Linked DNA regions of Homo sapiens: regions 2 and 3 are each linked to region 1. Evidence: fine-mapped expression QTL. A gene starts in region 1. Each other region holds a variant in brackets. All regions are shown on one strand. Distances are between the middles of the regions. Region 1 holds the start of RBM17 (RNA binding motif protein 17). Region 2 overlaps RBM17 (RNA binding motif protein 17). Region 3 overlaps RBM17 (RNA binding motif protein 17).

Evidence for each region. PIP is the estimated chance that this variant, and not a neighbour inherited with it, causes the effect.
Region 2: its variant is fine-mapped to the expression of RBM17 in whole blood (INTERVAL, PIP above 0.99).
Region 3: its variant is fine-mapped to the expression of RBM17 in whole blood (INTERVAL, PIP above 0.99).

Annotation. Positions count from the first base shown.
Region 1 is chr10:6,083,533-6,094,160 of GRCh38, reverse strand. RBM17 (RNA binding motif protein 17) reads right to left here and starts at 5,127. Exons shown (of 12, transcript NM_032905.5): 1 at 4,968-5,127. RefSeq lists silencers at 4,396-4,455, 4,726-4,815, 4,826-5,265, enhancers at 3,631-4,469, 5,426-5,475 and a cis regulatory region at 10,000-10,500.
Region 2 is chr10:6,102,760-6,113,387 of GRCh38, reverse strand. RBM17 (RNA binding motif protein 17) reads right to left here. Exons shown (of 12, transcript NM_032905.5): 4 at 8,291-8,457; 5 at 7,150-7,247; 6 at 4,646-4,702; 7 at 3,261-3,402; 8 at 1,027-1,178. Among named protein-coding and RNA genes, the nearest start is that of RBM17, 19 kb to the right of the region's middle. RefSeq lists an enhancer at 4,883-5,578. The variant T/C (reference allele first, on the strand shown) is at 2,358.
Region 3 is chr10:6,114,261-6,124,888 of GRCh38, reverse strand. It overlaps RBM17 (RNA binding motif protein 17), which reads right to left. Exons shown (of 12, transcript NM_032905.5): 11 at 9,578-9,650; 12 at 7,442-9,436. The coding sequence ends at 9,333. It overlaps LOC101928080 (a long non-coding RNA gene), which reads left to right. Exons shown (of 3, transcript XR_930619.3): 3 at 2,877-3,305. Among named protein-coding and RNA genes, the nearest start is that of RBM17, 31 kb to the right of the region's middle. RefSeq lists a silencer at 8,797-8,997. The variant G/AG (reference allele first, on the strand shown) is at 7,364.

The DNA of each region.
Region 1 (10,628 bases):
TAAAAATACAGAAACAAAATTAGCCAGGCATGGTGGCGGGCACCTGTAGTCCCAGCTACTCAGGAGGCTGAGGCGGGAGAATGGCGTGAACCCAGAAGGCAGAGCTTGCGGTGAGCCAAGATTGCACCACTGCATTCCAGCCTGTGTGACAGAGTGAGACTCTGTCTCAAAAAAAAAAAAAAAAAAAAAAAATTCCACACTTGACTTCATGTGATGGGTCACAGTCAAAAACAGAGTGAAATCTTTTTGCATGCATAAAATTATTAAAAGTATGACATATATTGCATATTCAGGCTATGTGTAGAAAGTATATATGAAGCATAAATGAATTTTGTGTTTAGACATGGGTCGCATCCTCAAGGTATCTCATTATGTATATGCAGGCATTCTAAAAATCTAAAAATATCCGAAATCTGAAACACTTCTGGTCCCAAGCATTTTGGGTAAGGGATACTCAACCCATTTCTCTTTATAACTTGAGAACTTTACCGAAAGTGTTTATGAATACGTTAGTGCCACCAGAAATGGGTTAACCAAATGCCCATTAAACTTCGAGGGGAAAGATTCACTTATTTATTTTTGCATCTACAATTTCTGTCATATAGCAAGCATTTAATAAGCTTTATTAAAATACTAATAATGGGCCGGCTGCGGTGGCTCATGCCTGTAATCCCAGCACTTTGGGAGACCGAGGCGGGCGGATCACTTGAGGTCAGGAGTTTGAGACCAGCCTGGCCTACGTGGTGAAAACCCATCTCTATTAAAAATATAAAACTAGCCAGGTGTGGTGCTGCACGCCTGTAGTCCTGTCCCAGCTGAGACAAGAGGGTGAGATAGGAGAATTGCTTGAACCCGGGAGGCGGAGGTCGCAGTGAGCCAAGATTGCACCACTGCACTCCAGCCTGGATGATAGAGCGAGACTGTCTCAAAAAAATAAAATAAAAAATAAATAGGCAAAGAGGCAGCACTGGGGAATAAGGGAAGGAAGTAACCCCCAGAGAGGGAGGCAACACTCCTCACCCTCCCCAGAAGAGTCAACTCTGATGAAAAGAGTTCTCTAAACTTTGAGGCTAAAAATCTAGCAGTGTACTAGATCTCAGCTGCCAACAGTTCTTCCATCAATAGATTCAATATTTAGCAAAAATTAAATAGTGAATTAATGAGATTTTATGAGACCACACATCTCCTCTGATTCCATGTCATTTAAGATGGCTGACTGACAATTCCAGTTGATTTGCTGCATTGCGCAAAAGTTTCAGAAATCATCAGGCAGCAAATCTCATGCTCATTTAAAGGTCCTCATTTCTCTTCTCAAACCTGCAAAACGCTTTAAATATTAGAAACTGATGTCATCTTACCAGCACCTGCTAGTTTTCTGTAACATTGAGCTTATAAAATCAAATCTCTGCATCACAGCAAATGCAAAAGTGCTTTCTTCGTTTTTCTCATTTTCACTGAATTTTAAGTTCACAGAATGGGATTAATCATAGTAACATCACACTCTCATCCATTCACACACTTATTACCTGCTTTTGTTTAATTATTATAATGCTGCAAGCACCTGTGAATTCACCACCCAAAACAAGACAGGATCTAGACTAAGAAACCACACTCAACCATACTACTCCCCCAACCCATTCATGTAATTTCCCCGGAATCCTCTTCTCATTATTTCCTTGCTTTCCTCCTTTTATGTTAATTTTATTTACAGTTTTAGTTAATCTATTCCTTAAAAAGTGTGTATTCTTTATTTTCGCTATATTAAGCATTTAATATACAATAGTTTGTTCATTAATTCTCCCCACCGCAACTACTGAAATGTAATAAGTACATTAATAAGACTGCCAAGACCCAAACTTACCCTAATTAACGTTGACATTATTACTTAGACAACATAACACATTTATTTCATTAGGTCTGCTGCCAGGTAACAAAAAGCTGTACTTTGTAACAACTGGATATACCATAAGAAGCCAGGATCAAAAGTAAATACAAATTGCTGGTTTTTATAACTTTAAAATATTTGCTATTTCCTTCCTTTTTGTGGCAACACTTCCCTTTGAGCAACCCACGTTTCATATATGCTACATTTTTTCTTAGGAAACATAACAAACATGGTTCTGCCAGAAGGAAGAATGGTGAGTTTTCAAGATTCCACCCAAGCTGGAAAGTATTTTTTTAAAACATGTGCAACTGGCAGGAAAAAGAACATGGAAGAGTCTTCTCAGAAGCACCCCACCTACTTATCTTTCAAGTGCATCTCAGAAGCCTTTAGTGACTATTGCCCCCACATAAAACTAACCCCCCCCAACTGGTTTCCTCAAGCATACTCAGATCACAGCAACCTTGGCAAGTTATGCTGCCTATTGTTTCACACAGCGGTTTCTTCCTGCAGTGTAAGCCCCCTAAAGGCAGGGGTGTTTCTTATGTTCAGCTTTGTATCTCTAGCTCAGCACCATGCTTGAACATTGTTAAGTGGCTCTATTAATATTTTTTAAATGTGTTAGTGAATGGATGAAAAATGTTAGTGCACCTATTTAAATCACATTATTATGAAACAGTGAGATCTGCAGATCTGCTTTTTAAGCACATAACTTATGATAAGTAGGATAAAATTTAAATTGCAAACCATAATTAAGGAGAAAAAAACTACCACCACCACACAACCAATAACGAGTCAAGGTCTGAGTTCTGAGCACCTAAAGAGGCAGGCTTGTTAGCAAGAAATATTTCTATCACTAAACAGATATTCATGCATCATAAAACAAAGCATGCCTCTTTGAAGCCTAAAGAATATGGCAAGACCGGGCCCAGTGGCTCACGCCTGTAATCCCAGCACTTTGGGAGGCCGAGGCAGGAGGATCACTTGAGATCAGGAGTTCGAGACCAGCCTGGCCAACATGGTGAAACCCCGTCCCTACTGAAAATACAAAAATTGGCCGAGCATGGTTGCGAGCGCCTGTAATTCCAGCTACTCAGGAGGTTGAGGCCAGAGAACCATTTGAACCTGGGAAGTGGAGGTTGCAGTGAGCCGACTTACACCGCTGCACTCCAGCCTGGACTATAGAGTGAGACTCTGTCTCAGGAGAAAAAAATATATGTATATAAATATATATATAAAAATATATAAATATATATAAATATATAAATATTTATATATTTATATACATATATATGGCAAATATACCCAGAAAGGAACAGGAGGGGTGGTGCACTTTGGTGTCCGCAAAAAATACAGCTTAAAAAGCATCTACCTCAAGTATAAGATCTACCATGACTTTCTAAAGAATTAAAAAAAAATTTTTCCCATACCTCCATCTGACGCCCTTGTCAGTTTAATCTTTCCATTCAATCCCACCCTCTGGCTGTTACCAAAATGCCATAGGCTAGTATTGCAAACACAGTCCACTACAGTCACCTGTAATTTAGGCGAATAACAGAACTTCCTTCACTATTGACTATTATGAAAGGTTTGAGAGATGACTAGCCTGGGATCATCTGTTCCCTGCTGGGAGGAGGTCTGAAAAATTCATAGGCAGGGGAGAATGGGAAGGTAAGTTAAAACAAACCAGGTAAAAAGAAATCCACTTTAAATAAAGCTGCATTTGGAAGTGTACAACAATTCTCTCAAGAGCCTCCAGAAAGGCTGCCTTTGGTTCCGCAGAGCTCCACAACCGCACAACCTGCTCTGTTATAAACTGGACAGCACGCAGCACCTTGCTTAACTAACTCTAAAAATAAAGCCCTCTCGTTTAGCTCACTAAACTGTTACCCCATATTCCCTAAAAGCTGTCATTACGATCAAAATGTCTGCAGCCTTTACAACTAAAAATGTGGAAACTTGTGTTGCATCCTTTTAAAAACTCCATCTGCTGCGGGGAGCCAGTGCACATCTACCCATCTATTTGAGTATATGCGAATCTTGCCCTTATCTAGAATATCCTATTTCCCATCCATATGCCTGGCTCTAGCAAAATAAGGACCCTCAATGGCGCTTCTTTACTGCTTCTCAAGAAACCTCCATGTTCTGACCTGACTACTCCTGGAAACACAGCAGCCCCTCCTCAAACCTTTCTTTCTGCCTAACCTGCAGCTTCCAGAACGCACTACGGGGCTTCGCTTCTGCTACTTTCGCACTTACTTCCTCCGCCGGCAGCCTTTTTCCCACCTCTCACATCTAACAACGTACCTTCAAGACTCAACATAAGCATGACCTCCTCTCTCAAGAGAGGTCCTTCCAGACCCCACTTGCGTTTCTCAAATCAACCCGGGCCTGGGTTTTCACGCCTGCTTTCCCAGAAACCAAACTCCTGCAAGCAGGGGCAGAACCTCATTCCACCTGCATTCTCCGATCATTACACATTCTCGGGGCAAGAGGCGAAGCTCAAAGACTGCCTGGGGTCGGACGTGAGCGCTGAAACACCGCTCAAACTGCACGAGCCGAGGCGACGCCGGGGTTAGGGCTGCATTCCTGTCCCGGGCAGCTCCGGAGTCTGAGAAACGCCAACGTCTGCACTCCCAGTTCTGAGACCCCGGGAGGAACCGGCTCCGAGCCCCAGAGAGGGGCAACCGTGCAGGGCCAGGGGGGACACGCTACGGGCTACTCGGTTCTGGTGACCAGACAATTTCGTCAGGATGCGGTGCACGAGACGGAGAAGAAACGCTCTTCAGCACCAAACAGCCCGAGGCAGACATGAGGAGGAGGAGGAGGAAGGGAAGAGGGAGAAGGTCAGGGCCAGGGTCACCAGAGGCGGCGGCGGGCGGAGGGTACCGGGCCGCAGCCGCGTGGAGAGACCAGCGCCCGCCGCGGGGACTGAGACCCTCGGAGGCTCCGGCTGCGCTGGCCCGGCCTCCGCCCCTCGCGACGGGCCTAAAGCCGCGGGCTTGCGTCTAGCGCCTCCCGGGAAGGCGCGCCCGCCTCAGGTCCCGCCAGGCCACCCACCCGGGGCCGCCGGGGCGCCACTTACCCGGCCCGCCCGGCCGACTCTGCCCATGAGCCGCGCCGGCGGCAGAGCGGAGCCGGGCGGCACTCCGCGGAAACCCGCCAGCGGCAGGAGGCCTCGGCGGCGCCCACCCTTCGCTGAGTCCTCAGGGCGCTCGGCGGCGCGGGGTCAGGGAGCGCGGGCTGCCGGGAGAGCGCGCCCGCGCCTGCGCCCCGCCTGCGCCTGCGCCTGCTTCGGCCTCTGCGCCTGCGCCGAGGGCGCCTTGCCGCACTGCCCCCTGCCCGCGGGAGGACCGCACTGCACGCTCCCCTCCGCCGGCGTCTTCTTACCATCAAGAGGTGTCGCCCTGGCGCACATTTTCGAAATTCCACAAGGCTTGGGGAGCGCGGCAGCGCCCCCAGATGGTGAGGAGGAGAAGTGGTCCGAGGCCGGGCTTTCTGATAGGGGAGGTGGGGGAAGTCCCTCCAGGCCCCTCGATCTCATTCATTCAAAGCCACTCCTATATAAGCAAAAAGTTGAAAATAAGTCTGCATAGGCCAGATGCTGCAAAAGGATGGCAAGGAGCACGAGGTTAAGCGTAAGATTATGGAAACAGATGCCGCGATTAGGGGTACAGAAAAGAATGTCAATGCTATAAAGCCTCGGTCTTTAAAAACGACGTCGCTGACAGAAGCAGGGAGGGAAAGGGAAAGTGGGACTTCGGGTAAATATGATTTTTACATCTGTAATTAATTGGGTGTCAAATAGAGTTCAAGCCGATAAATCAAATAGTAGAGATTTAAGCAGACGTCTTAGTCCGAAGGAGTATACCAAGAAAGTTACTATAATCCATTAAAATCCAGTCATTAAGAAAACGGGAAAAGGGGGAAAAAAGAAATACAGTGGAGAGACAAAAGACAATCTAAAGAAATAGAGGATTAAGGACGTCATGGGATGGTATGATTCTGAGGGTAACCCAGAACAAAACTACAAAGCTTTCAAATAATCCACACATACATGCACCCACACATACATGCATGCACACACACACACACACACACAAAACCACAGCAAAAAAAATATATATATAGGGAAATATTTTAAAAAGTTACAAAACAGAAAGCGTAACCAAACTATATGACAGAACAAGACCAAATGTCTCACAAGAAGAAATATAGACCTAAGCTTACCTACTAAAAAACTACAATCTCAGATAGGAGCACAAACCATCATGCAACTCAGTGTTGTATACAAGAAAGTGCTAACGTTATTCTGAGTTTGAAAATACAAGATTGGAAAAGATATACCAGGAATATGCAAAAAAATTAAAAAAATCAGGAATCACAAACCGCTTACTACAAAGTTGATTTCAGGGCAAAAAGCATTAAGTAAGATTAAGAAGGACATTTTATAATCTTGAGGAGCACAATTCACAATCAAGAAAAAAATAGGAAAAATAGGAAAATCTTTGCACCAAATCACATAATCTCATTATTCATAGCAAACACTGTAGGAGTGAGTGAATAGACAGAAATAATTGGCACACTCCTTGCCAGACGAAGAGTACAAAAAGTAAATGGGGATTGAGAAGACCTAAAAATACAATTCCTATGATAGATCTAATATATCAAACACTGTCCCCTAAATAGACATTACATCTTTTCCAGTGTCTAAGGAATATTCACAACAATTAGTCATATTTTAAACCACAGAGAAAAATCTTAACATAGTCCAATAAGTAGAATCATATCGGTAATATTATCTGCAGCAATTCAATAAAAGTAGAAATTAATGAAAAAACAGAAAATAAAACATGCCTACCCCTTGAAAATTTTTAAATGCTTAAATAACACTTGGACTAAAAAGGAAAACAAAATCAAAATAACATAATATCTAGAAAAGTATGAAAATGACATACTCATGGGATTTAGCTCAGAGAGTACTAAGAGGAAAATTCATGGTTTTAAGTTTTTGTATCAATTAAAAACTTGGAAAAAGCTAAATGAATTAAGCACTTGTGCAAGAAACTGGAAATAAAATAAAAATGTGAGAAGCAGAAGGACGTACTTGGTCAATAAAAGAAGCAGAAAGTAATAGCGTGTAAACAGAAAAAGGAAGAAGGGCAAAGATAGAAGGTGTCTAGACTGGGTCTCTCCCCACCCCGTGATCAAAGCACCGGTGGGGGTGCAAAAGCCCTGATTAGGAGGTCCAGAGCTGCAGGACTTCCTCCAGGTTGAACCTGCTGTCTACCTGTACTCCCTAATCTGCTTGGCGTCTCCACTCTGCAGTCTGAGACCACTCCTTCCTCCCTTTTTGGTTGAAAATTTGTGCCTTTGTTCCCAAATCATTCCATCATACATACACAAGTAACTTTTTGGTTTACAGACCATAGATGCAATCACATCCATTGTTTAGGAATTTTCTAGTTTAACTTCCAGGAGGAAAACTGCCTTACTTCATTTCCTAGTACGTGAGCAGTCTCATGCTTGCCTCCATTTCCTGTCAATAGTAACAAATATCATCTTTATTTTATGCACCGAGAATCCAAAGCTTAACCCAATGGGGGAACAGAACCCAGGCCATGCAACTATCAGAAAGCGCACACAAAACGGTGGAGCTTTAGAAGAGGGACAAGACAGACGCGCTGGAGCGCCCCCTCGGGGCTGCAGAGCAAACATCGGTAGTGACTCCTGCGTAAACAAGTCGTGTGATCTGCTCCAGCTGTGCTCAGCGCCTGGCAGGAGGCTGGCAGGCAGCAGATGGTAGAATTCATCGGAAACTGGGAATTAGCAGGGCAGATGTTCCAGGAAGAAAGAAGATAAGGGCGGTGTTTGGGCTGGCAGGAAAGGCTGGGTGAAATGCTACAGTATGCAGCATGGATGGAACCGGGGGACCCCGAAACAGGAAAAGAAAGGGGTGTGGGCCCTGGAGGGAAGACAAGCTAGTTAAGACAATTTGATCAGATTATAATTTGATCAAAAACAAGTATTCCCAAGGATTCTGTGTGTAGGGATGCTTTCGGTGCACCGTGGAGAATGATTTTTGTCTCCTTTTTTGTATCTTTTTTTTTTTTTTTTTTTTTGAGACGGAGTCTTGCTCTTGTCACCCAGGCTGGAGTGCAATGGAGTAATCTCAGCTCACTGCAACCTCCGCCTCCCGGGTTCAAGCGATTCTCCTGCCTCAGCTTCCTAAGTAGCTGGGATTACAGGTGCCCGCCACCATGCCCGGCTACTTTTTGTATTTTTAGTAGAGACGGGGTTTCACCATGTTGGCCAGGCTGGTCTCGAACTCCTGACCTCCGGTGATCCGCCCACCTCGGCCTCCCAAAGTGCTGGGATTACAGGCATGTATATCTCTAAGCAGCTTCGGCCATTTCAGAAATCTTTCCTTCCTTCCTTCCTTCCTTCCTTCCTTCTTTCCTTCTTTCCTTCTTTCCTTCTTTCCTTCTTTCCTTCTTTCCTTCTTTCCTTCTTTCTTTCTTTCTTTCTTTCTTTCTTTCTTTCTTTCTTTCTTTCTTTTTCTTTCGATGGAGTCTCTCTCTTGTTGCCCAGGCTGGAGTGCGATGGTATGATCTGGGCTCACTGCAACCTCCACCTCCTGGGTTCGAGCAATTCTCCTGCCTCAACCTCCTGAGTAGGTGGGATTACAGACGCCTGCCACCACGCCCTGCTAATTTTTGTAGTTTTGGTAGAGATGATATTTCACCATGTTGGCCAGGCTGGTCTCAAACTCCTGACCTCAAGTGATCCACCCGCCTTGGCCTCCCAAAGTGCTGGGATTACAGGTGTGAGCCACCATGCCCGGCCCATCTCACAGATTTTTTAAAGTTTTTTCACTTTTTTTGTCTTTCTAAATCATTCTCTACAGTTATTCCTGCTCTGTAAGGTTTCTAATAGTAAAAATATAGGAACAAACTAGCGAACAATAACAACTTAGGGAAATTCAATTATGTTGAGAGACAAATAATTTACATGGAAGGATCCCATTTTTGTTTTAAAAATTTATAAATATATACAAAGTATCTATAAGGTATTTGCCAATATGGCTGGCTCCAGATAGGGATTATCAGGATTCTTTATTTAAATTTTTTTGCTTGTTTGCCTTTTTTATCTCTGAGTAATATGCTTGCATTGCTTTTGTAATAAAAATAATGAAAGAAGGCTGGGCGCGGTGGCTCACGTTTATAATCCCAGCACTTTGGGAGGCCAAGGTGGGTGGATCACTTGAGGCCAGGAGTTCCACACCGGCCTGGCCAACATGGTGAAACTCCGTCTCTACTAAAAATACAAAAATTAGCCGGGCATGGTGGTGGGCGCTTATAATCCCAGCTACTCAGGAGGCTGAGGAAGGAGATTCGCTCAGACCTGGGAGGCAGAGGTTGCAGTAAGCTGAGATCTCACCACTGTACTCCAGCCTGGGCTACAGAGTGAGACTGTCTCAAAAAAGAGAAAAATAAAAATAAAAATATAATGAAGGAGATCATCAATTTTTAAAGTACATAGAATTTTCTGAAATTTTTAAAGTTTTAATTCATCTTCCACCTAATTGGTGTCTGTTCTGCTTGTTTGAAAATATTTTCATACATTTTTAAATTGCATTGATTAGTTGAAAACTAATCTTTTCAATAAGAAATTTACTTTTTTAAAAACATAACTTTTGTGTGCAATTTATGGCTTTCATATGCATATTTTTTATTTTGATATAGTTTTGAGACAGGGTCTCACTCTGTCACCCAGGCTGGAGTGCAGTGGCATAATCACTGCTCACTGCAGCCCCGAAATCCCAGGCTCAAGCAATCCTCCCATCTCAGCTTCCCAAGTAGTTGGGACTACAGGCATGTGCCACCATCCCCAGCTAGTTTTTTTGTATTTTTTGTAGAGACGGGGTTTTGCCGTATTGCCTAGGCTGTTCTTGAACTCCTGAGCCCAAGTCATCCACCCACGTCAGCCTCCCAAAGTGCTGAGGTTACAGGCATAAGCCTGCACCTGGGCTCGTGTGGATATTTTTTAAGTGCCAAGCTTACATATGCACACAACCTAAAATGGTCAATAAAATGATAAACTGTTTTTATCCTTTCCCAGCTGGGAGGTTCCCACTCTTCAGCCAGTGAGGCCAAGAGCTTCATCTGTGAGTGATGCCTCCTTGGGGCACTGTTATCCTTTCCGTTGTGCCCTTTAGTGCTATCCCCAGAGAACAGGGGCAGAACAGCAAACCTTGCTCCAACGCTTTGAACAGGAGTACAGCTTTGAGTGGCAACCTTAATGTGGTCCCCAACGTGTGATCAGGTTATCAAAGCCAGATCATTGGCTTACGTGGCATGATCGGGAAATGAGTTTATCTGTGATCTGAGGGTTTCGAGGGATTAGTAACCCTTTCAAGTTACATCCTCCCCCTCCGTGGAGCAAAAGTGTTGCAAAGAGCAGTGACAACAGCTCAGCACAGAGGAAAAACATTCCTAGGAGAGTCGGGGAGAACTACTGCCAACCGTGTGCCAGGGGTTTTAGTGTAAATTATCTCACGCATTCCCAGTGACTCAACAAGACCGGTGTTGTTATGCACATTTTTCAGAACAGGAAACTGATCCTCAGAGAGGTTAGGGGATTTGCTGAAGTCGGACAACCAGTGAGTGACTGAACTCTGATGAGGACCCAGGGTTGCCTGACTGAGGTTAGTGTGCTTTTCAGTATCTTAAGCTGCCTCATAAGG
Region 2 (10,628 bases), 19 kb before region 1:
ATGTCCTAGGCATCTACACAATTGGTCTCTGAGCGAAAACACAGCCTTATCTGCAATAAAAGCCTCTGCTTTGCTTTGGCATGTTTTTACAATAGCATCTGGATGTTTTGAGCCTCCACCATTACTTGCAATTTTTGCTCATCTCACTTCCCAAAGGGCTGACAGGGCATGTGAGTGATAATTCCTATAGGTGAGTTGACTTGGAGCAAACGTTCAAGGTCACGGGCCCAGGGGAATATGCAGTTACTAATCCAGCCACCGGCTGCCTTACTTCAGATAACCTCACAAGTCGGGACAACTGTTGGTTTCTGGCACTCACCTGTCAGGCTCGTGATGTATCCTAAGCTGTGCATGAACGGGGCTGCCAGAAAAGTTTTCTTCTTTCTTTAGCAAAGGAAGTTCAGCTAGGCTGACTCAAACTTAATTCCCTGATTAAAATGCTAACATATGTTTGTCTCTTTCCTGAATTCCCTCAACACAGAACAGACTGTAAAAATTAAATGAAAATAAAACACCAACTAGGCATCATTTACCAAGAGACTGCAACATAACATCAGATCTCGCAAAGCAAACAATCTGTAAGAGAATCAGAAATCACATCTATACTGAAAGGGCAAAAGGGAAAAGTAGAGACGACCTCTGAGATGGAGATAGCAGGTATATTCACTGCCACACTATATGGCTCTGTCCTTCATGCTCTAAACACATAACCAAGATTTCTTCCTGAGGACTACTCATTTTCTGCCCAAGTCTCTCACCATCTTTTCCTCCACAAGCCTTCATCTCTCTACGTCTGTTCTGAAAAAATAAAGATGAGCCTCAGGATTCCTGGTTTCACAAAACGGAAGTGGCAGTGCATCATATGAACAGGACGGCCTGTGTTCTAGTGATGGCAGGGCCAGCCCTCTCCCTCTGGCCACACGCCTCATTGTCCCCCTGCTGACACATGAGGATCAAGACTGGCCATGTCTGATATGGATGGGGCCAGTCCTTTCCCTCTAGTCACACGCTTCCCTGGGGACACACCTTTCTCTGTGGCGTCGCCCACGATGATCTTGCCGCCACGCTTGCTGGTCTTCTCCACTGACAAGGCAGTGCTCAGGCCCTGCTCATGCTTCCCCAGACCCTGGCCCTCCCGGAAGCCGTACTTCTGCATGATCTTGTGCGCCACCGTGCCCCTGGCAGGAGAAGAAGGGAAAGGACTCTTAGCCTTGACATCGTCAACTGGAGATAGGTTGCATTTTTCCATCACAACAACCTCCTTCTGGAGAGAGTGCATGCTCCACAGGGGCTTCAACAAAGTCACTCATTAACTAGGAGTGGGCTATTAGATGGAAGCTGTGGGGATGTGCAGCATGAAAGAAATAGAAAAAGCTATGAATAAAATCCAGAACATCCTGTTGTCTTGGAGGGGAAATGTCAGTTTCTCTGGTGGAGTCTCCTCAGTGCCCTGCTAGGAAACACAAGACCTTTTGTGTGCTCCGGACCTGCACTGCCACATAGCTTATGACCACAGTTTATTAAAAAGTGGCTATCAAAAAGTAAGTATGAAGTTTCGTACAATGAAGATGATCCCATTTTCCTAAATAGCACAGGAGAGTTTCCAATGACAGACTATACAAATGAAAGAACCCTTAGAGATCACCTATTTAACAAATGAGAAATAAACGGAGGCCAAGATTAGCTGACTAGCTTAAGGGGTGGACTTAGAAGTAATGCAAGACGCCATATTAGAAATTATTTGTACAGGCTGGGTGCAGTTGATCACACTTATAATCCCAGCACTTTGGGAAGCCGAGGCGGGTGGATCACCTGAGGTCAGGAGTTCAAGACCAGCCTGGCCAACATGGTGAAACCTCATCTCTACTAAAAATGTAAAAATTAGCTGGGCATGATGGTGTGCACCTGTAGTCCCAGCTACTTGGCAGGCTGAGGCAGGAGAACTGCTTGAACCTGGGAGGCAGAGGTTGCAGTGAGGCGAGATCGCACCACTGCACTCCAGCCTGGGCGACAGAGCGAGACTCCATCTCAGAAAACAAATAAATTATTTGTACAGCTGTTAATGGTAGAGCTGAAACTGGACCCCACAACTCTCAGTCACTGCTTTCTGTAACAACCAAATGGCTCTCACACTGCGCTCTGAGGCGCAGCATGGGTCTGAAGGGCACCCCAACCCCATGACCACTGCTGCTTAGGGCTTAAGCCACAAAATCCCGCTTCAACTGGAACTGCACCTACATTACTTCTTGTATTTAATTCCCTTAACATTTTCATTTGAACAAGCTATTCTAGGGCTAAAAAGACCAGAAACTGCTGAATGGTACCATCTTGCATCTTTCCTAAGCACAAGTTAAAGA[T/C]GTAATTCCTGGTTAAAAGCAAATTCGCTAAAAAGTCAGTTTTTATCATAAACAGGGAAAACAAAACAAAACAAAACAAAACCAGCTTCATGTCTGTCCAACCCTCCAGTACACAAAGCTTCCTGCAGCCACGGCCATGTCCTATGTCTGCACCATCCAACATCGTCACCACTTGCATGTGGTCACTGAGCACTTGAAAGGAGACTAGTGAGTTTCAACCCCACTCACTGTCTCACCGGCTGCATTTCTGCTACAGGCAGCAGCCAGCAGATGCAACACAGCACAGAACAAAGCCTTCATGTGATACTGCTTCATGGGACAGCCGTCTCACAGGATCAAAGTCAACAACACAGAATATCCTCTTAACCAAAATGTTTGCCAAGCCCAGCACAGTTTAAAAAAATCCCCAAGCCCCACCTGAGCGTCAGCCTTACAGTCAAATTTTATATGCTGGCAAACATGTCAACTTGTAGTTAGAATGACCCCGAGTTTTTTAGACCAAAGGTTTAGAACCATGACCTGAAAGCAAATGGCCCACTTTATCAGGAAAAAAAAGGTATCACCTGCCCTTTGGAGACAGTAAGTCAGCTCTGATTCATATGAGCTATTTTATTTGCAAACGTTATGAAGGCAAATGTAAACATTAATCAGGTTCTGTGCCTGTCTAGGAAAATAATGTTCAACATCAAAATGAGTCAAAACTTCTACTGGGAGGTTGCTGTTTTGAACAAGCCCCATCATTACACTGGAACACGCTCCACACGATTGAGGCAGGTACCGTGTGACCTGCACACACCAAGGGTCCTGAATGTCCTCAGTTTCAAACAAGCTGCATCTATTGAAAGGGCTATCAACGCTTCACACTGTCTCTCAAGTCCTTAGATAAGAACATTAAATCATTACCCCATGTTAGCGAGGAAGGAGTTGCTAGGTCCGGTTGGAGATCTCGGTCTGTCTTGTTCCTCGTACACTGGGGGAGGAATGGCTGCTTTGGAAGACTGTGATCGAGGTCTTGAGTCCTCTTCATAAGGAAAATCTCGGGGTACTATTGGAGAAAAATAAAGTAGGCTCACCAAAATACTATAGAAAACACTCTGAAACCTCACTTGTATCAATTATTTATCTTGAACAAATTTAACCTACTTTTTGGTTTACCACAAGGAGAGAAAAACACCAAATCAATTTTACAGCCTTTATACGACTTTTTTTAAAACCACAGAGGGAGGACGCTACTTTCCTGATTCTAACTTTCCTTTTGCTATTTCTATCTCCTCAAACGTCTTTTTTATATCTTACTGAAATGTTATTCACCCTTTAAAATCTTCTTGAATGAATATTCTTGCCGGAAAGATGTTCTGTATGTTCTAAGGAGATACAATCTGGCCATCTTTTGACTCCTGCAGTAACTTGGGTGCACCTGTCTAGACCCCGACCTCACTATCTCATCAGCTCATGGCCCACAAAGGTGTCCGAGGTTAGGGGCTACGCACTGGAGCGGTGGCTTCAACCCTAGTTAGATGAAAGTCAGTAGGACGCTTTAAGACCATCCAGATGCCTGAGCCCCACTCCCAGAGACTAGTTTCAATTGGGGTTTATTGTTTGTCTGTTGTTTTCACATAATAGGTATTTCATAATATCTTAGAAATTATCTTCTTTAAAAGATAAAGAATTCAACAAGTTTTAAAAAGTACTATAAATGAGAATATCTGCTTGGGATAGTTTAAGTATGGTCCAATCCAGAGAATGGGAAAATGACCTAGATGATATTCAGAAGTCCAGTCCCAACCCCCAAATTCTAGAGCAGATCACTGCGAGAAGGAACAGTGGGTGAGGGTGTTTTGGCAACGCAATGACACGCAAACCCACCTGCAGTGAAATGGAACGGGAAGAAAAAATCTAATCAAGGAAGGCATTGCCACCTTGTGGAGGATCATGAATATAACAGCCTCTAAACCTCTGAGTTAAAAAACTGTAACGATCTGCTGTTTTAACTCCAAATGAATCTAACAACAAATAAGAAATGTTAATGAAATCAAAGTGAATTGCATAAAAAAGAGATGGATCCCACTGCATGAAATCCAAGCCTCAGAGCCTGGCGTAGAAAGGTCTCTCTCTGCAGGAGGGCGCTGCATTCTGAGATCCAGGTGCGGCCTCAGGTGACAGAGCCAGGCAGGCTTGCAGGCCGTTTCCCTCTACGCTCAGGAAACCTGGGGGCCCAAGCTGAGATCCCCCATGGTTGGGTTAAAGACCTGTATCAGAATAAAAGAGGAAGAAACAGATCTACTTACACTCTTTGTCTTTCTCTACCAGAGAAGTGGGTGGGGCAATGGCAGCTCCGCCCATACCTGCAAAACCACAAATCCAAGCATTAAAGGAGGTTTCCGATGCCAGACTCCCAAACGACTATGACACACCATATATCTATCACCCACCCCCCTAAGAAAAAACTAAAAAAGGAGGACCTGCTACTTCAGATGACCTCCTGCTACATATGAACAAACCTCTGATGCTAGGATTTAAAATGTAGAAAAGTGGCAACACTCCCTCAGATATGCAAAATTGTTCCTTCATAAAAGGAACTCAAGAGCCCCACAATGTAGTCTGCAAATGAATTTTAAGGCAAAACAATACAACCAAGAGAACCAGCAGTTACTTAAAAAGAGAGTAATGTAACTATTTACCGAGAGCAATACCCATTAGGCCCTTTATACACATGGCCTCGTTCAGGCTTCACAGACCTCTGAAGTAGATATTACTGCATCCAGTTTACAAATAAGAGAATGATCAGAGGGGAGTGAATCAACAGAAAGGGAGTAAACCCAGCTCCCTGCGTTGCCATATCTCCCCCACCACACAGCACGCTCCTTTTCCAGTGTGCAAACCACTGGAACTAAACACATATTTGAAAGCGTGGGTCCTTCTGGCTCCTGAAGAAACTGCTGCGTGTTGTCACTATTCCTGGTGTATTTCCTGGACAACGAATGGTGAACACAAACAAACCAAAAGAGATAAGACAGATCTTTTTATCTGGTATCCGACAACTGGAAGGAGAACATCAGTGGAGACCACAAGGAATTTTGCATTAGGCATAAGTCCTAACATATATGGATTACGTATACATAATATTACATAATACATATGTATTATGGCTTAATCAACAATGAAATAAAAACAAAATGTAAAACTTTAAAAATTGATTACAAAGTCATGCTGCATCAGCACAAAATGTTTGACAAAAGAAATTATTCTGGCTGGACGCAGTGGTTCACTCCTGTAATCCCAGCACTTTGAGAGGCTGAGGCAGGCAAATCACTTGAGGCTAGGAGTTTGAGACCAGCCTGATCAACATGGTGAAACCCCATCTCTACTAAAAATGCAAAAATCAGCTGGGCATGGTGGCACACACCTGTAATCCCAGCTACTTGGGAGGCTGAGGCAGAAGAATCATTTGAAACTAGGAGATGGAGGTTGCAGTGAGCCGAGATGGCGCCACTGCACTCCAGCCTGGGCAACAGAGCAAGAGTGTCTCCAAAAAAAAAAAAAAAAAAAAAGAGGCCGGGTGCAGTGGCTCATACCTGTAATCCCAGGACTTTGGGAGGCTGAGGTGGGTGGATCACTTGACGTCAGGAGTTTGAGACCAGCCTGGCAAACATGGTGAAACCCTGTCTCTACTAAAAATGTAAAAATTAGATGGGCGTGGTAGCGCACACCTGTAATCCCAGCTACTCTGGAGGCCGAGGCAAGAGAATTGCTAGAACCCAGGAGGTTGCAGGTTGTGGTGAGCCGAGATTGCACCACTGCACTCCTGCCTGGGCAACAGAGTGATTCCATCTCAAAAATAAATAAATTCATTCTTCTAAAGAATTATTCTAGAAATTATTCTAAAGCCAGTGTCCATGCATTTTGATTAACAGGACTGGATGATATAAAATCCTCAAGGAGAAATATGAACCTGAGTAAAACCTTCTTCTATTTCCTTTGAAATACTTCCATGATCATTTTACTAACCTTGTCACTAGGACCTAGAGTGATTACTGATTCTGAAAAGCAGATTAGCTCTAATAAGTTCAGTTAAAAAAATTCAGGGTGATTACTGGAAATCTGCTACTAATCACATTAAAATAAGAACATCAATCTGTCAACAACTATACATATGATGGGCATGCCACTACCTCCCTATCATGAGCTACAAGGTCAAACAAAGTCTTCTCATTCAAAGCTATCTAGTTCCTGCTGGTGTTTAAGAAAAAAAAACAAATGTCCTTAGTATGGAAAGCATGCCTCCTTATTAAAAAGGGCAGTCAATTTATAAGCTGGAAAAATGAGACCTACAAATATTCAACCTATATACTGAATTCCAAAAGAAGTTAATAAAAACCAAACATTTGGGGATTAACTAAGATAGCGGATATGAAATGTGTCACAATGCCCAAAACAGACACACTCAATGTTAACTATGCTTCCCCCCTAAGAGAAACAACAGAGTGGATTCAGCATCGGCCAACTGGACTGTGCTGCAGGTAAAGACAGTGCAGGAATAGATTTTAAGCTAGTCCCAAAGTATCCAATAAATAAATGTTAGAAAGTGGTTGTGAAGCTCAAAGGAAAATACATATGAAAACCCAATATAAATTAAAACTGTGACGCAAATGTGTATTGCTGGGATTCCAGAAAGAAAATTACCCAAATCAATGTCAAATGAACTATTTATCAAACTGAAAAGAAAAAGCACATAGTGGAATTGCACTTCCAGTATTTATATATGTTTAAGACATATTTGTTCATGCCTTACTTCTTTTCCTCCTCTCTCGCTCATAATCTTCATCTTCATCAGAATCTGGATCTGGTCTCCTTGCAAACCCACTTGCTTCATGTCTGTCTTTACGCCTTCTGTGATAACAAAGGAAATAAATGTTCATCACAGATGAACCAATTTAGAGACCTGAACCTGGGATGACTTCCTCTTGACCAGAAGATATCCAAATCCTGTCACAATCAACTATGAAGTTGCAGGGGTAGAGGGGGTAGGAAGCATAACTGGTAAAAGACTAAAGTAGATAAAAGTATGAAAAGTGAGAAAAATTCAAGAGATAAATTGAACCAATAAGTATACGAGAGCAACCAGCATGAAAAAAAAGGTTCCTTGACATTGACCTCTTCCAATGTTAAAGCCTATCAACATAGTAATAGTTCAATCATTTCAATAGTCTATAACACTTTCACTCATGAAATGATTCAATAAATGGGAAACAGTATATTAATATTTAATACATGTTAACTATTTGATAATACTAAATATTTTTAAAAAGAACTACAAATACATCCTACTACTCGTACTTTGCAAAAACATAAATAAAAGCTGCATATGAATTTTTAAAAATTCCACCTGGCTCAAAAATAGTAAAGTTAAGAAGAATATTTCAAGTACTTTAAATAGCTGTGATTTTACAAGTTGAGAATCCCTTATTCCAAATGCCTGGGACCAGAAGTGTTTCAAATTTTGGAATATTTGCATTACAATTACCAGTTCAGCATCCCTAAGCCAAAATCCCCCAATGCACATTTCCTTTGAGCGGCATGTTGGCATTCAAAAGATTTTGGAGCATTTCAGATTTCGGATTTTTGAATAAGGGATAGTCAACCTATAGCAGAGTATCAGCATAGAAAAAAATTTTCAACATCAGGTTTATAAGTTATTTTTCTAACAACTCACTCAAAATATACACTTTAGGTCTTCAGTCTACAGGTGAAGTTTGCTGTGATTCTGAGATGTAACAGGTACAAATCGTAAAACAGTTTGATTCCTTGTAGTGACTGCTCAGATCACCCATGACAATTAACTTCAGCCTTACAGACAGCAGCGACGCTCATTCGTTAACATTTTAATGAACATTTCAACTGTAAAATATCCCCAAATCCAAAGGAAGCCTTACTTTTCCCTTTCTTCTATTTCCTTTTGTCTTTCCAGCTCCCGCTGTCTCTGTCGTTCCTCTCTTTGGCGCTTCACTACTTTCTCATAATCATTAGGAAACATAGGGTCATATTCGTCAGCTAAGGGAATCAGAACTTCCCCTGCAGAAAACCCACTGGGAACAGGATCCTGAGGAAGGTAAAAACAGCAGTAAGAATCCTCTTTATATCTTACCAGTTTACTCACAGGATTCAGGTCAAAGCGTATGGGAGATAAAAGGACTCTGAACATCATCTAGCCCCTTCCTCTGTTTTAAAGACAAAGAAAACAAATACCAGACAAGGCCACGTGCCTAGTCAGGTGGTAGCAGAAACAGGACACAAAATTTCACCTCTTAGATTAGTACTATTTCTATAATACTCTATGGCATTTTTCCTGGAATTCCTAAATAAGCCACCACCAGCTAAAATATAAGTTACTAGTACTTTGAGTCAAAAAATTAGAATACTTATAGTAAAGCACTGAATACTTGTTTTTATAGATCTCTATGACAACTTAAAAAATAAAACAACCATGAACACCACAATCATTCTTGCAGTCATCATTTTAACAGAATAACTTCAGATTCTGATTACATGGAGATAAGAATATATGGAGATCTTAGAAAGCATCTTCTTGGTCTTTCTAATCCTCTGAACACATGTCCCTTCCCAGGTAGGCTGCATTTCAGGCACTGAGTTTGACACAAGGGGATGTAATGTCCCTTCCAGCATCATAATTTTTTTTAAGGTTCACTAAAATCAGGTTTAGATAACACTTCGTGTTTTCTCGTCTATACATTCAGAAACTTGGTCTACTCTTTGAAAGAAAAGAGGTAGCCATGACAAAGAAATTAGCAAAACGAGAGGCAGAGCACAGCCAGTATACTAGGAAATACATGAGCAGACACAGAACTTTACCCTAGGCTGGCAGCCTCGGTCTACACGTGGTGCTGGAAGCCCTGACCCCACTTTCCTAAACCTTCCCACACTTTCTCCTGTTAGTGTTCTTAGCATAATTCTTCGTTATTATCTGTAACAATAAGATGCCTTCTCTGGTTTTGAAAGACACCTCAAACAAGCACAGGTTAGGATTAGTGTCCCCATTTTTTTTAAAACACACATGCAAAACAACAAGGATTCATGTCCTTGAGCGCCCAGTCTGTACCTCTTACAGGAGGTACAATGTCCAACTGTATCAAAGGCAAGAAGGTCGTTTGTAAACGTGTTTCCTGCTTGAACACAGAACTGACAAAATCAAGACAGCTTACACGCCATATTAACAGACCTAAATCGAACAGTTCCTGTGTTTCATGGTTCGGTGTGACATTTTGCACTATAAAACAAACACTTCACCATTTCCTTACGACGAAATATCAGGAAATGCTATGATCCAATGAATAAGAGCAATTAGGAAAATAACTATAATCACCTCCCAGGCCCTACCCACTGGAAAATGTATTTAATGTAGGGCTCCTAAAGGTTAGTTATACATTTGTATTCATTTTATAAAAGACATTTAAAAAATACAAAAGCACATGAAGATTTCTTTTCAGTTATTATTTAGAGAGAAAATGACAACCAGCCACTCAATTTATCTAACACAATTATCACAACGTGTCTAAGAGAACAAACTGTCAATATGAAGGTTCATTCTCTGACACTTCAAAATTTCAAAGAAAAAAACTTTTACATATAAACCCTGCTATGCTTAACAATGAAATCAATCATCCTTTTCTAAATGCTGCAATGAATAAAGTGATTTGTTCAATTTAAAAAAATTAAAATGTTAATACCCTCAATGCTGAGGGGGGAGGATGGGGTAAAATTCACCCTCATATGCCTGAGGTGATACTGTGCACTGCTGGGAGTAAACTGGTGCCAGAACAGATTGGCCATAAAAATGGCTGATATCTTAATGCCACCTCAGAAAATCTAAGAAAATAACCCTAATTACATAGAAACATCTCTGTAAAGATGTTCATTAGAGGGCCGGGTGCAGTGGCTCATGCCTGTAATCTCAGCAATTTCGGAGGCCAAGGCATGTGGATCGTTTGAGCTCAGGAGTTCAAAACTAGCCTGGGCAACATGGTGAAACCTCATCTCTACAAAAAATTAGTCAAATGTGGTGGCATATGCCTGTGGTCCTAACTACTCAGTAGACTGAGGTGGAAGGATCGCTTGAGCCCAGGAGGAGGAGGCTGCAGTGAGCCAAGATTGCACCACTGCTCTCCAGCGTGGTGACAGAGCAAGACCCTGTCTCAAAAATAAAAACCACAAAAAGATGTTCATTAGAGTGGTATTTATAAAGGCAATGTAAAA
Region 3 (10,628 bases), 31 kb before region 1:
CTCACTTCTCGGAGCGAGAGGCTGTGTGGGAGAGCAGTGGGAAGCCTGAGAGGACATGTGAGCCGGAGGGATTATTTTTGTCATAAAACATGCTTTGTCCAAAGGCTTGGAGGAAAAAAGCACTGGCTTCATTTCTGCACAGTCATTGTTGTTAAAATAGCACAATTGGTGCCATGCAGAAGAATGTGAAGATTCTGTATCATCCTCCTTGCAAGGGAGAAGGTGTTTGTGAGCTTTACATGCCAATGTCCACCATGAAGGCCAGAGGGCATCGGAGACTTTTTTTTTTTTTTTTGAGACAGAGTTTGACTCTGTCACCCAGGCTAGAGTGCAGCGGCACAATCTCGGCTCACTGCAGCCTCTGCCTCCTGGGTTCAAGTGATTCTCCTGTCTCAGCCTCCCAAATAGCTGGGCTTACAGGCACACGCCACCATGCCAGGATAATTTTTGTGTTTTTAGTAGAGAGAGTGTTTCACCCTGTTGGCCAGGCTGGTCTCGAACTCCTGACCTCAAGTGATCCAATATTGTTGAGCTGGATCAGCAGGTGTTAGGCATCAGAACTGCCCTTGAAGGCTGGTATGGTGGCTCACACCTGTAATCCCTTGCACTTTGGGAGGCCAAGGGTGGAGGGTCGCTTGAGCCCAGGAATTCAAGCCTGCGCGACAAGAGCAAAACTCTGTCTCAAAAAAAAAAAAGAAAAAAGAAAAATGCAAAAACCAAAACAACAACAAGAAAAAAAAACAAGAACTGAATGTGTTTTCCTTTGGAGAATGGGACTGGTGGAGGCAGAGTGCTGTTCTGATTTATGAGTATTTGAAGACTTAGTTGATTTTATAATTATGTACAGATATTATTTTGACAAAAACTAAAATTAAATAGGAATGCCAACTGTAAACTTACTTTTCAATCCAAATTTTGGTAATAATTATGCAAAATTCAGTTCAGAATGACTTAATCCAGTTGCACCCTCATAAAATACCTGTGTATACAGCGGTCATCTGGGAGAGTTTATTGAGTCACCATCAGCTTACTTCTGAAGAGATTCAGCGTCAATTATTGTTACTTAGTTCCTTATTCTGAACCTAAGCACAGTACTGCAAGTAACTGCAAAGCATGTCTGCCAAATTATCAGACTTTTATTCCATTTATTCCTTCTGCTTTTTTCCAAGAGAAATGAGTAATAAAGTTCCCTTAGCAACCCCCTTCTTGTCAAGCCACTTCCTCCCCTCATGTGAAACCTGGTTTCAGCAAGCCAGGGACCCACAGGGGTTTGTCACGAACCCGTCCATGGATAGACACTGTCTTAGCTTATCGGAAACCTTATGTTTTCACTGCTTAGACTTGAGCCTTAAGTTGTGGGAGAAAAATGCAACAGGAAGAGAAGAGGATAATAGAGATTTAATAGGAGGTATTTTAATATTGTGTGAGAGTACAGAGGAGGAAAAAAGGGTGGTTACTAAATGAAAAGACCCAGCTGTTATCAAATCTGCAACTTGCTGATACCCTTAGACCATATTTAAAAATGCATTGACCAGGTGCAGTGGCTCAGTGCCTGTAATCCCCACACTTTGGGAGGTCAAGGCAGGAGGATTGCTTGAGTCCAGGAGTTCGAGACAAGGCTAGGCAACATGGTGAAACCCCGTCTCTACAAAAAATACAAAAATTAGCTGGGCATGGTGGGATGTGCCTGTAGTCCCAGCTACTTTGGAGGCTGAGGTGGGAGGATTGCTTGAGCCCAGGAGTTTGAGGTTACAGTGAACTACGAATTTAATAATCTTGACATTTCATATAAATGACATTTCAAAATCTTTACAATATCTTGCTATAAATAAAGTAACGTGTATGGCTCCATCATTTACATAAATCTAGACCCTCACGGCTCTGGTCAGGACTCAACCACCTCTATACCTTAGTTCCTTAGATCAGGGTTGCCAATAAAAGAGAAAAGAGAGAGACCAACCCAGAAATACACTGACTAGTAAAAGTCCCAGAAAGAGAAATACAGTGAAGGAAGGAGGGTCAGTTATCAAAGAACTATCATGAGAAACATTTCCAGAATTGAAGGATATGAATTTCTAGAAAGAGATCATCCCCTGGCCAGGCACGGTGGCTCATGCCTGTAATCCCAGCACTTTGGGAGGCCGAGGTGGGCGGTTCACTTGAGGTCAGAAGTTCAAGACCAGCCTAGCTAACATAGTGAAACCCTGTCTTTACTAAAAATACAAAAATTTGCCAGGCATGATGTGCATGCCAGTAATCCCAGCTACTCGGGAGGCCGAGGCAGGAGAATCGCTTGAACCTGGGAGGTGGAGGTTGCAGTGAGCCGAGATCACACCACTGCACTCCAGCCTGAGCAACAGAGCGAGGTTCTGTCTCCAAAAAAAAAAAAGAGGGTTCATCCCCAATGCCCACCATGCTGAACGAGAAGAGGTCCACGGCATAGTCGTGAAACTTCCAGACAGTGGTTCCAGAACCTTCCAGAGAGAAGAAAAACAGGTCAGCAAGGAGGACACTGACTTTACCAACCGCAAAACAAGAAAATGAGAATGTAGCAATGCCCTCAAAATTCTGAGGGAAAATGGGTTTTAATCAAGAAGTCCACGTTTAGTCAAACTAGCAATTCAGCATGACAGAATTATGATTTTTGTGGGTGGTGGTGAGTGCCTGTGGTCCCAGCTACTCTAGAGGCTGAGGTGGGAGGATCGCTTCAGCTCCTGAGTTCAAGGTTGCAGTGAACTATGACCGCGCCACTGCACTCCAGCCTGGGCAACGGAGACCCTGTCTCAAAAGAAAAATAGAAAAAGAAAAATGCAGAATTAAGATTTTTCAGACATGCATGGCCTAACAAACTGTATCTCTCCTGTATCTTTTCTTAGGAAACTACTTCAAGATAAGCTCCACCAAAAATAGAGAGGAAATCAAGAAGATTAAGACGCAGGATCCAGCGCAACGCTCCAGCACAGGAGAGACCAAAAGAACGTTTGACAATCCACTGACTTCCTAGAAAACAGAAGAGTGGGCTGGGCATGGTGGCTCACGCCTGTAATCCCAGCACTCTGGGAGGCTGAGGTGGGTGGATTACCTGAGATCAGGAATTCGGGACCAGCCTGGAGAAACCCCGTCTCTAAAAATACAAAAATTAGCCGAACGTGATGGCGCACGCCTTGTAGTCCCAGCTACTCAAGAGACTGAGGCAGGAGAATGGCGTGAACCCGGGAAGCAGAGGTTGTAGTCAGCCAAGATCGCGCCACTGCACTCCAGCGTGGGAGACAGAGCGAGAGTCCGTCTCAAAAAAAAGAAAAAAAAAAAAAAAGAAACAAAGTTTAGCTTTCCCATGCCCCCACCCCCCGCACCGTTGCCCGCCGCCCCCCCCCCCCCCCCCCGCCCCATTCATTCTTTCAAGCTGGGCCCAGGGCAACATTAAAAAACAAACCTGTAATCAGTATTTATATGATATGGCATTTTGTGTATTCATCTCAGCTGAGTCAGTTGTATATCATGGTTAATTACCATTATTTTACAACTTTGGAAAGCCCCTCATCTTCCCGCTCCCGGATGGACCACGAGTTCTCCAGGCCCCTGTATGGCTATGGACCAAGACTTCTTTCATGATGACCTTGGGAACTGCTTTCGTCTCTCCTACTTTGGGTTCCCTATTTCCCCGAGTCAATGCCATCTTTTTCTGGGTTTACTCCTTCAGTTGTAGCGAGTTAAAGACTGAATGGAGATGAGGGAGGTGGAAAGTAAGTACAGCCTCTTCTTCCGAGACATCTGCTTAGGAAGAGAGGGAAGGAGCCTCATGAGGATGTATTTAGAAGTATGGAGGCAGAGACCAGCAGCAGGCCAGCTAAAAAGTTAAAAGTAGTTCCCGCGGGGGAGGTGTGCAGCTGGGGACTGTTGTTTCTCAATTATGGGGCTGTGGTGCCAATAAACCTCGCATGAGTAGCAACTCAGCAGGCCCAGGATACGTGTTGGAAGGGGAATGAGGGAAGGGGCAATTCTCCAGGCAGCAGGGAGAGCGTGAGCAGAAGTCACTGCCAACACTCCCACCACAGGAACCTAAGGGAAGGCGCGGCGCAGCGAGGGCAGTGAGAACGCCCCGGCTTCCAAGCAGGAGTCTAGACGCGGTAAGGATTGTGTATACGGGAGTGGCTTGAACAGCTGAGGCATTGCCTTGGAAGATGAGAGGGGTGCACGGTTAAAGCAGGGAGACCAGCGGGAGCCCATGGGCCTACTCCCAGGAGATAAGGGGTCAGAAATGAAGGAGCTCCACTGTATTACCATGAAAGATGGAAAAGAAACAGAACCGGCGGTCCTCAACTACAGACTGGATCTAGATAGAAGGGAAAGTGAGGAATCGAGGGTGATTCTTGGGTTTCTGAGTTAGATGACTGAATAGATGATGCTTTCCCCCAAATCAGAGAGTTTAGCAGGAGAGCTTGAAAGGGAAGAAGTGAGTTAAAGTTCGGGACATGTGTTTGAGGTGCAAAGGGGACAGCCAGGGGATGATGTCTAATAGGCACTTGGATACAGATCTGAAGTTTGGTAAGGAAGACTGGCTGAGATTCAAATACAGGTGAGTCACAGAAGCAGCCCAAGGCCAAGGTAAGGAGATAAAAACACTTGGGAAGAGGTAAAGCGTGAGCGATACTGGCAGGGCCGCGGTCTCCGTCCTCGGGAAGGGAGTGGTTACCAGCGTCAAGTGCCATAAAACGTCAGGAGACTCACCGCACGGCTCTTAGCTGAACTATCAAGGAGGCCTGGTGGAAGCAGAGGTCTAATTTGTAGTCGACGCAGTCCTCATTCTGCAAGTGTGGGCTGAGTGGAAGAGGCAGTAAGAAGCAAGGAGGTGGAGGCGGGATGTTGGGATTCTCTGAGAAGAATGGGGACACCAGGGAGTTGGGGAGTGGCTAAAAATTCAAGGTTTGACCTATTTCCATTAAAGATGGGAGAGATTTGAGGAAATTTATATGCCAGTACAGAGTTTGAAAACGGGAGAGACAAAAGGAAAGTCTTACCATGTAATCCAGCAGTCTCACTCCTAAATATGTACCCCGCTAATGTGAAAACGTGTCCATGAAACACCTGCACATGGATGCTTATAGCTTTACTCATAGCTGCCAAGAACTAGAAGTAATCAATATGGCCGTCAGTAGGTGAATGGATAAACATATGGTGGTACATCCGCACAGTGGAATAAAGAACGAGCTATCAAGCCACAACAAGAGATGCATGAATCTGACAGGCACGTTGCCAAGCAAAAGCAGCCAGTCTGAAAAAAGCTGCATGGTATGTGCTTTCCAGTTACATGACATTCTGGCAAAGGCAAAACTATAGACAGTCAACACATCAGTAGTTGCCAGGAATGCAGGTGTGGAGTAGGGTGGAAATTTCACTACATAGATGAAGCACAGGGGATTTCTTAGGGCTTTAAAGCCATTCTGTGTGATACTGTAAAGATGAATACATTTTATTTTTTTATTTTTTTGCGACAGAGTCCCTCTCTGTCACCCAGGCTGGAGTGCAGCGGCACAATCTTGGCTCACTACAACCTCCGCCTCCTGGGTTCAAGCAATTCTCTGCCTCAGCCTCCTGAGTAGCTGGGATTACAGGCATGCATGCGCCACCGCACCTGGCTAATTTTTTTTTAGTAGAGACAGAGTTTTGCCATGTTTGCCAGGCTGGTCTCAAACTCCTGACCTCAGGTGATCTGCCTGCCTCGGCTTCCCAAAGTGCCGGGATTACAGGCGTGAGCCACCGCGCCCGGCCACGACTAAATCTTAATTTATGTACATTAAAAAAAAAAAAACCAGGCCAGTGGCTCACATCTATAATCCCAGCATATTGGGAGGCCGAGGCAAGCCATAACACCAGCCTATAGTCCAAGGAACAGCAGCAGCTTGGCTAAATGCCTCACCACCAAGTAACGAGGTTCACCAGTTCTTCAGCCCAGGGAAACCGGGTCCTTACCAGTCCCATCCTACCTCCTCCATCTTTCATCTTTCAGGATTTGTCATGTGCAATCCCAGCTATCAATCTGTTATCAGTCAGGGGTCTTAGGTGCAGATTTAAAAATTCACTCTAGCTTGTTTAAGCAGAAAGAAATCTACCAAAAAAAAAAAAAAAAAAGGATTGGGTGCGGTGGCTCATGCCTATAATCCCAGCACTTTGGCAAAAAGATAATTTGAGCCCAGGAGTTCAAGACCAGCCTGGCCACCATGGCGCAACGCTTTTTCCACTAAAAATAAAAAAATTAGCCAGGCATAGTGGCACATGCCTGTAATCCAAGCTTCTTGGGAGGCTGAGGCACAAGAATTGTTTGAACCTGGGAGGTGGAGGTTGCAGTGAACTGAGATTGTACCACTGCACTTCAGCCTAGGCAAGAGTGAGACTCTTGTCTCAAGAAGAAAAAAAAAAAGGAGGCCGGGCGCGGTGGCTCACGCCTGTAATCCCAGCACTTTGGGAGGCCAAGGCGGGTGGATCACGAGGTCAGGAGATCGAGACCATCCTGGCTAACACCATGAAACCCCGTCTCTACTAAAAATACAAAAAATTAGCCGGGTGTGGCGGTGGGCGCCTGTAGTCCCAGCTACTTGGGAGGCTGAGGCAGGAGAATGGCATGAACCCGGGAGGCAGAGCTTGCAGTGAGCCGAGATCGCGCCACTGCACTCCAGCCTCGGCAACAGAGTGAGACTCCGTCTCAGAAAAAAAAAAAAAAAAAAAAAAAAAAAGGAAAAGGCCAGGGACAAGCCGCAGGTTTTATGTAAAGCAAAAATCCCAAACCCCTCCATAGACTGCTCTGCCAGATACCACACACCAGCAGAGGTGACAAGGTCTCTGCCACTGCTGCCCCCAGTGCCACACAACACTGTGCAGAGGAACCCTTGCCAAAGTCAGACGACAGACTCTTCACACAGCTTCTCTCCCACACTGCGGTGCCGGTCTGATCAGAGATCCCAAGCGCACAACCCTACTCAACCTGCAAGACAGGCTGGGAAAGCAAGTTTCTAGTCTCTTGCGGGGAGGAGGGAAACAAGGAAGTTCCCCACACAGAAAAAGGCGTTTCAGGCTGGGCTCGGTGGCTCACACCTGTAATCCCAGCACTTGGGGAGGCTGAGGCGGATCACGGGTCAGGAGATCAAGACCATCCTGGCTAACACGGAGAAACCCCGTCTCTATTAAAAATACAAAAAATTAGCCGGGCGTGGTGGCGGGCGCCTGTAGTCCCAGCTACTTGGGAGGCTGAGGCAGAAGAATGGCGTGAACCCAGAAGGCGGAGGTTGCAGTGAGCCCAGATCATGCCACTGCACTCCAGCCTGGGCGACAGAGCAAGACTCCGTCTCAAAAAAAAAAGAAAAAAAAA[G/AG]AAAAAGGGGTTTCAAAAACTCACAGATGGGCCACCAAGAATGACAAACGTCTATTACACGGAAACTTGCCAGTTACATTGTAGCTTACATAATTTTTAATTTTTATTGAAATTTAAAATTTTTATATTAGCTTAAATGTTAATATTGAAAATTAATTTCAAATTTCTCAAGTACTAACTTGCAGGAGATTTAGAAATTATTCGACTATCAGAAATTCATTATAAATAAAGCACTAACTGATTAACACAGTTATTTTAAAAATAAAAGACTGGGGAGAAAGGCACACACCAAGCTGTCCTCATGCGAACGGAAATCAAGTAGTATGAGTTGGTTGCAACTCTCTGGTTGCTGACCATGAGAATGTTAGGAAAAGCCACCCATTTAGGTGCAAACAATGTTTTACAAAGCATAACAACAATAAATGCATGCATGAAAGGTGGGTTGGAACCATTAGTTTCTAAAATTAAACAAGCACACTCCGGTACTTGTAAGCACAAACATGGTTTCCACTTGAGGAATGGTATGCCTAATTCCATAGATAACTGAAGTTCCAGGGCTGCTTTTGATTCTGTCTTCCACAATGTTCAATTATGTAATTTACCTCACATTCCTTAACCCCAACTTACTTTACAGAACAGGTGCACTTTTATCATAAAACTCAATTTTATTCAATAAAATAATACCACAAAAGATAAAATGTTATTCTTTTATTTATGTTAAATAAAAACATGAGAAAATCCTTTTTTAAAAAGGGTCAGAATATTCCTTATGTCTCCAAACCAAGTCCATGGATGCAAAGAAATGCTGAGTTCTTGATACACTTTCATGTCATAATAACCAAAGGAGACAGCACGGGCTCGAGTCTTTCAGCTGCCGCTTAGGAAAGTCACATGCAGTATTTGGGAAAGCAAGGAACAGAACACAGGCATGAGTATTTTCTGGAAATACCTCCTGCCCTGGCAATGAACCTCAGTACCAAATATTTTTGTTTTCTTTTTTGTGGTCCTGATAAATTTTTAAGCCACACATCCTACTGAACTTCAATGATACAATTTCTCACAATTCCAGAATTCTATTGGCAGTACAGTTTACTTGGCCAACGTGGATAATCTTATAAATTTTAAAATTACATACAATAGAACACTATTGCAAATTTTGCCAGTAGAAACATGACCCCAAGGAACTGCCATTTCCAAAACATAACTGGGCACACATTTACAATGCACCTGCTAGGTTTTGAATTCATTTGTCATTTCTGATCTACCCTTAAGACTATGCTTGAATCTCTGAAAACAAATGCTAGATTCATGATTTCTATACCCACATACTCCATAAATCCATCACAAACCCTACAGTCTGATTTAGCCTACGGCAAATGATTCATCCAATAGGCCATGGTATGTTCACAATTCTTCAATCTTATTCAGGTTGTAAAGACGTTTTTCTACGACTGGAGTCACTAAGAATTTCTCTGTTAGAGAAAGCATCATTTTCACCTTTGGCACACTGCCAAGATGATACTTTACTACAGAATTTATGAAACTACAATTTAGTAACTTGCAGGCTTTATTAAAAGAAAAAGAAAAACAAAGAATAATTTAATATAACCCCATGTCCCAAAACTTTCTAGTTTTTTTTTTTTTTTTTTTTTTAGTGCAAGAAATGCTGCATCATTGAAGCACTTGAGAATTACCATGAAATCTAACAAAAAATGTCATCAACTCAGGAGTAATAATAAAAAAGAGAAACAACCAGAGAGGCACACAGATTGTTGTTTTTTTAAAAGGATTTTTATACTATATTAAAAAACCACAAAATAAAAAAGGGATCAATCAACATATATCTTAGAAGTCCTTCCAAGAGTCTTGGTATGCAACAGCCATGGAGGCTGTGACCTTTTTCCTTCTTTTCTCAGCCTGCAGTTCATTTAAGGATCACCGGAGATGACTCGTGCTCTAGTTCTTAAAATCAAACTTGTTCTGCCAAATCCAAGACCCTGAATTTGTCCAAATTGTAGAAACATGCTTTTACCACCCGTCCACCAAAATACCTCCCATTCAAGTCAACAACCGCTGAAAGGCAAACAAAAGACAGTTAATACAGGTATCCTATAAGATAAAGGTTTAACTTTAATTAAACAGTAACTTTACTTGTAAAGATTAAGGCTGTAAATTCAACTTTTTTATTCTTTAATATTTAGCTGTACCACTAACCTTTAATTGCTGATTCAACTCTCTCAAATTCTAAAAATATCCGTACTGCTTCATCATCAGGGGCACCAGGAATCTGGAAGAAAATGAGAGCGTGATGAGTAAAGGCATTTGAGATTGCATTGAATGAGTTTTCTCTTTTAAATGATTTCTCAGAGTGGATATTCTAATTATCATCATATACAGTCAAGTAGTTGTCAAATACCAAGGAAATAAGTATAATTTGTTCATCATCAAAAACGTACTGAATGCCTGTTTTTATGACAGGCATTGTTAGGTGCCAGGAACACAGGGCTAGGCAGTCTCTGACCTCATAAAGGCCCTGTGCCAGCTGATGACGTAAACAAATAATTATGTGGTCAACAAACAGCAACAGGATAAAGAAACAGAGGAAGCAGAGCTTTCAGATTAAAAAGGCTGGTGCCCTAGTGGCCTTTCACATCAGGTCTCATTTTGACTAGCTCTGTCTAGCTTTCCTAGCCCTCTGTAATTCCACCCACCTAAGCACTTCTGCTAATCCCCAACAGGCCCATCCATTCCATTTTGGTAGTCCTGATCTTCACTGTCTCCTACGAGCCATTATCCCAATCAGAATACCCTTCCCTGCAAATCCCACCTGTTCGTTTCAAAGCGCAGCCCATATCTGCTATTGCTCACAAGGCAGTCTATTTTTTCACTGATCTAATCCTTTTCTCAACTCCTGAACTTAGTCAATACTACCTAGTCTAGTAACTGAATATCTTTCAGTTATTTTATGTGTTTCTTCAACTGAACACACCACTGAGAGTACAGAGCATGCTTCCTGTAATCCAAGTGCTCTCCGCACAGTGCAGTGCATGTGAGAGGCACTAAATACTCACCAAATGACTGAAACCAAAGGCATGTCTAAGGAACTAAACTACTGAGCACGCTAGAATCAAGGTCTTCAGTCATCATACTGATCCTCAATCATGAAGCATTCCTGTTTCTTCATCAAATAAAACTTGAAATCATTGTCTTTATGTTTAAAACTGTAATAATTGAGCAAGAGAAGTACAAATAACCAACGCCTGTC